Regions from separate parts of the Homo sapiens genome. Here region 2 is linked to region 1. Evidence: fine-mapped expression QTL. A gene starts in region 1. The other region holds a variant in brackets. All regions are shown on one strand. Distances are from middle to middle.

Evidence for each region. PIP is the estimated chance that this variant, and not a neighbour inherited with it, causes the effect.
Region 2: its variant is the best candidate, but not a certain one, in a credible set for the expression of MYT1L in testis (GTEx, PIP 0.81).

Annotation. Positions count from the first base shown.
Region 1 is chr2:2,330,071-2,332,984 of GRCh38, reverse strand. MYT1L (myelin transcription factor 1 like) reads left to right here and starts at 1,710. Exons shown (of 25, transcript NM_001303052.2): 1 at 1,710-2,018.
Region 2 is chr2:2,183,768-2,186,681 of GRCh38, reverse strand. The region is part of intron 2 of MYT1L (myelin transcription factor 1 like); the gene reads left to right. Among named protein-coding and RNA genes, the nearest start is that of MYT1L-AS1, 130 kb to the left of the region's middle. The variant G/A (reference allele first, on the strand shown) is at 1,511.

The sequences.
Region 1 (2,914 bases):
CATAGAATAAGATGTATAGGAGAAGTAGAGTAAAATGAGTTTAGAAAAATTATTCGTTCTAATTTTTCAACCATTTTTTTGAGAGGTGATAATGGTCTAATTTCCAGAATGCCTTGAAAAACCCTGGAATACTCGGCAGAGGTGCTGCAAAGTAAAGCTTATTTGAGGGCAATCTTGAAGCTATGCCTGAGAATTTTAAACAACAAAATATCCAAGATTTATTTTTTCAATTGTGTTCGATTATTTTATTAGCTAGTAGCTTTCTCTGTTTTAATTCTCTGTGTTGCATAATATCTAGGATACAGTAACAGGCTGGTTGCAAATGCTCGAAACAGAAATAGGTTTCTTCATAGGCTGTGTTTCAGCATGTCCAACTGTGAGCCTGTGAAGCAGAGCATCGGAGTTCTCTCGAGGTCTGTTGCTTCAGATTTGGTTAGAAATTATTGAATCTGGAGTGTAAAAATCTTGTCTGGGCCTTTTAGGCAGCTTGATTTTAAAACTAGCCCTTCTGCCCCAAGACTTATCAACCGCCCCCCCACCCTGTCCCAAAAGAAAAGCTGAAGTAAGTTCAGTGTTAAAATAATGGTGCTGTCAGGCAGGCAGTCTGCATGTGAGCAGCAGAAAATTAGAAGAATAGAACCATCCATTCTCGTTTCCCCCCGCGACATGCACGCACACATACGTGCACACACACACACACACCACACACACACACACAGACAACACCAGTCAGTGAAGGGGGAAAAGGGTGATACCTTTTTAAAAAATGAAAGGCAGTAAGCCATTATTAGCAAGAGCTATATTGAGCATGCTTGCCAGACAAGCAGCAAAGCTGAGCTCCAGTTCCGCCCAGACATGTGCCTTGCCATTTTCATTTTAATCAGCCTGCTCAGGATGGCTGCTGATTCATTTTGCAGGATGTCCCCCTGGGAGCCAAGGTGGAAGCCTGAGGCGAGCTGCTATTGCATCAATGCAGCACATCAGAGCGAGAGCGCGGAGGCAGAGGGAGGAGAGAAAGCCTTCAGCACCGCATCCCGATTTCAATATGGCTAGTTAGAAGGTCCTGCATGAAACCGAGTCTATTGCAGAAAACATAATGAAAGGAAAGGAAAAGAAAAAAGTCACATTGTCATTTCATTATCCAACTATTCTCTCCCCCAACCCCTTCTTGCCACCAACAGACACACACACGTACACATTTTACAGTGACCATGAAAGATTTCAAGCCACTCTGTGGAAGTGTGTGTGTGTGTGTGTGTGTGTGTGTGTGTGTGTACTATTTACCTGGTAACTAGCTGGGGTGGTATACCTGATTTAGCTGGAGACTTTGATTTGTAGGACTGACAACCTTATTATGCAGTGAGTTTATTATTGATATTATTCTGCTCTCGGTTGCCATGGCCACCTTGTGAGAGACATTCAATTTTCTCTCTTCCATCATCATTATCTATGAGGCCATCTGTTGTGGAAAATGAATTCAGCCTCATTTGCATGACTGATAAGCAATTTTTTTTTTTATCTATTTAACAGAAGGTCATATGCCGGGGATTTGGAGCTTGTGAAAAAAAAATGTGGAAAAAAAAAAAAGCCTAGGAGAGGATGAGTGGGAGCGTGTGCATGGGGGTGTGTGGAAGTCAAACAGATCCCTGAGGCCTGCGAGCCTATCGCGCTGCATTTGTCATTCCTGCCCGGGCGACATTTTTTTTTTCCCTAAGCTACTGCACACTAAACAGTGAGAGAGCTTTTCCCTGCAGTCTTGTTGAAGCACCCCGGGTTTTTTGCTCATTGTTGGTGGGTGCATTTTAATTTTTTCATTCCCTGGACTATGGGTTATGATATCCATACTCACTGAAGACAAAAAGCCACCTTTTCTGCGTCTTGGTGGCATGCATGTGTCTCATCATCCTTTCAAACTTGTGGTGGAACAGGGTTTTCTTCCCTGTCTGTGTATTTTGAGCCAGCACAGTTACCAAAATTGAACTTGTCTTTCGCTTGTGAGCGGTTGTGGTCATTGTGAGGTACGTGATGTTCGTTAGGTTAATTTTTCGGGGAACTTAGTGAGCAGGATGTGTTTTACCGTAGCTCAAGGGCTGAGGCTGCTATTCCATTGTCTGCTCCTTTTTAAAGTTATTTTTACAGCATGGCTGGTAGCTGAAATGTTCCTGGACTGGAGGCTTTGTAATCCACAAAAAAATCTGTCTTTAAACTAAAATGGGTATTAGGTTGCATGACTTAACTGTGATGTTGTTTATTAAGAAAAAAAGAAACAAAAACAAAACGGGGTGCATGTATGGTGTTTGGAGGATAAGAGGATACTGAAACAAAAACTTCCCAGAGACTTTACTGGATTACTTTACATTACAAATGAAGCACATCATTTTATGCAAAGGCAATTAAAATGTTAGCTATTTTGGATGAATTTACCTGATGGTAAGAAGAAAGTTGATTTATATTGTTTAAGTGGAGAAACTCAAATAAAGATTTTTAAATTTAACTTAAATGTTTGAAGTTCATAATAATGAAAGAAAATGTTATTTATAACAGAAATATGTCTTTTTGTAACACCTAAATTAATAAACTAAAAGATTAAACTCTACACTTTAGTTTTAAGATAGATCTGAATAAAGCAAAAATATATATGTAAATATTTATATGAAAGTTAGCTATATAAAATATAGAGAACAGATTTTGAATTTAGTATTAACCATGACAATTTCTTGTACCATCAAAGCTATATAAGCTAAATAATTTCTAAGTTACTTAGAGTAAAACTATTTTATATAAGAGCCTTTTTGTTCAAATGTTTATATTTTCTACTAAACAAAATTAACGTCATAGACCAAAGCATCCCAAAACCACCCTTACTGGCATATGAGGGTCTTTCTAATTGTTCATCTTCATTTAGTGTCATGTA
Region 2 (2,914 bases), 150 kb after region 1:
AGTGTAGGCATCCAGAAAAACCCAAGGATCCTTATTTACTAGAGGGAGTGGCGGGACATGGGATGGTTGACGGGTCTGCAGAACGTGACTTCTTGGGGAGACATGGAGACTTTACAAATGCCTCTCGCAGAAGCTGCTTCCCTCCAATGGTAGTGATGGGGGCAAAGCTAAAAACGTAATTCCAGGATGGGTGCATGAGATTCTCCCTATTATCTGTTCATCGAGGTCCATATTTCTTTTGCGGTGAGCACGCTATCTTGGCTTCAAAAAACGAAAAACATTAACAGTGCGGGACTACAGTTAACCAGTAAGGACCGCAGGACTCGGGAAGGCCCGGCTGCGTCCCCCTCACATAATGACCGCGGAACTCGGGGAGGCCCGGCTACGTCCCCCTCACGAAAGGAACGCGGGACTCGGGAAGGCCCGGAAGGCCTGGCTGCGTCCCCCTCACGTAAGGAACGCGGGACTCGGGAAGGCCCGGAAGGCCTGGCTGCGTCCCCCTCACGTAAGGAACGCGGGCGTCTGGGAGGCCCGGCTGCGTCCCCCTCACGGAAGGAACGCGGGACTCCGGAAGGCCCGGAAGGCCTGGCTGCGTCCCCCTCACGGAAGGAACGCGGGCGTCTGGGAGGCCCGGCTGCGTCCGCCTCACGGAAGGAACGCGGGACTCGGGAAGGCCCGGAAGGCCTGGCTGCGTCCCCCTCAAGGAAGGAACGCGGACGTCTGGGAGGCCCGGCTGCGTCCGCCTCACAGAAGGAACGCGGGACTTGGGAAGGCCCGGAAGGCCCGGCTGCGTCCCCCTCACGTAAGGAACGCGGGCGTCTGGGAGGCCCGGCTGCGTCCCCCTCACAGAAGGAACGCGGGACTCGGGAAGGCCCGGAAGGCCCGGAAGGCCCGGCTGCGTCCCCCTCACGTAAGGAACGCGGGCGTCTGGGAGGCCCGGCTGCGTCCGCCTCACGTAAGGAACGCGGGACTCGGGAAGGCCCGGAAGGCCCGGCTGCGTCCCCCTCACGTAAGGAACGCGGGCGTCTGGGAGGCCCGGCTGCGTCCGCCTCACAGAAGGAACGCGGGACTCGGGAAGGCCCGGAAGGCCTGGCTGCGTCCCCCTCACGGAAGGAACGCGGGACTCGAGGAGGCCCGGCTGCGTCCGCCTCACAGAAGGAACGCGGGACTCGGGAAGGCCCGGAAGGCCTGGCTGCGTCCCCCTCACAGAAGGAACGCGGGACTCGAGGAGGCCCGGCTGCGTCCCCCTCACGTGTGGAGGCCAATCAGGTGAATATATTAGTTTGCACGCCACACAATTTGTGGTGAGTTACTCATATTTGAACAGAGCTATTAAAATACAAGGAAGTAACAAAAACCACACAGTACTGAATGACTAGTTACATTTTAATTAAATAGCACAAATATGTTATATAAGCTTTGTGTGTTGAAAGTGCCCTCATTCCCATTTACCTTCAATGTGTTTGCTATTATTATTATTTTTAAGTCTAGGCCTTTTATAAGGAGGCTT[G/A]TATATAAGAGTGGAATGCTTATTAGGTGCAGAACAGAGAGTTATTGGATGGATATGGAAGAGTTGCTGGCTGGTGACTGGAAGGTTTGCAGCATGAGGGCATTTTCTAAATGCAGGAGCTGTGCTGTCTCAGTGGATCCTCTGACAAGCCTTCTAAAGTAGACGCAATTACTATTTGCATTTCAGAGATGACAAAAGTAAAGGCCAGAGAGGTGGCGAAGCTTACCCGAAGCAATGCAACTACTCATGGGGTGGAGCTTTGCACAGTTGCCAGCTAAAGTGCCGAGCTGCGGCCTCTCTTGGCGGGTCCCTTTCTGGGTAGCTGGAAACCTCAAGCCAACCCCAACCACCGATTTAGGCAGGAGTCTCTCCTACAACTGAAGCTGACGGATGAGGAGAGGCTTATATCATCACAGGAAGAGAACAGAGCTTTCCTCCCACAGCTGGGGAAATCTGCCGGCTCTGCTGGAGAGGCCGCCAGCCCATTGGTGGGCGTGCGGTGCGGGGAGGCTTAGGCGGGAAGAGGAGGTCTTGCTCAGATGAGTGTTATTCCTTTGTTTGGACAGAGGAGGTTGGGCAAATTGGAGTGTAGGATATTTTTGCCTGGAGATTTTTACTTGATGAAATCATCCCATGAAAAAAATCCCCAATTTTTAAAAGCATGCTACTTTGACACATTAAACTCATCATTTTAACATTGATAGAAAGTATTTAAAATGGGCCTTTGCCTGAAAATAAACGTCAGTGGATTGGAAGCACTGAGGGCCTTCGTCCGTTCTGTCCCAACCTTTATGGGCGCTGCACATTTTCACTGTGGAATCTACAGGGACGAACTCTGTCTTGTGTTTACTTTCTACTTGTTTCTCTTGAACACACACATGCATTAACACTGTAATGTATTTATTACTTTGTATGTCATTAATAAGAATATATTTAGATAATATTGAAACAGTATGATTTATTAGTGATTCCTTCTAGGTAGATATCAGCTGTGTTTTTTAGACGTTTAAAATTGTGAACAGCCTCAGCATGACCTACATTATTCAAGCCATCTACCTCCTTCCCTTCTTTTCTTTCCCTCCCTCCCTCTCTCTGTTTCTCTCTCCCCTTTTTTCTTTCTTTCTTTTTCTTTTTCTCTCTTTCTGTCTTTCTTTCTCTCTTTCTCTTTCTCCCTCCCCCTTTCTCTCTCTCTTTCTTTCTCTTCTTCCCTCCCTCCCTTTCTTCCTTCCTTCCTTTTTTCTTCCTTCCTCTCTCTCCTTCCTTCCTTCCTTTTTTCTTCCTTTGTCTCTCTCCTTCCTTCCTTCCTTTTTCCTTCCCTCCTCTCCTTCCTTCCTTCCTTTTTTCTTCCTTTGTCTCTCTCCTTCCTTCCTTTTTTCTTCCCTCCTCTCCTTCCTTCCTTCCTCT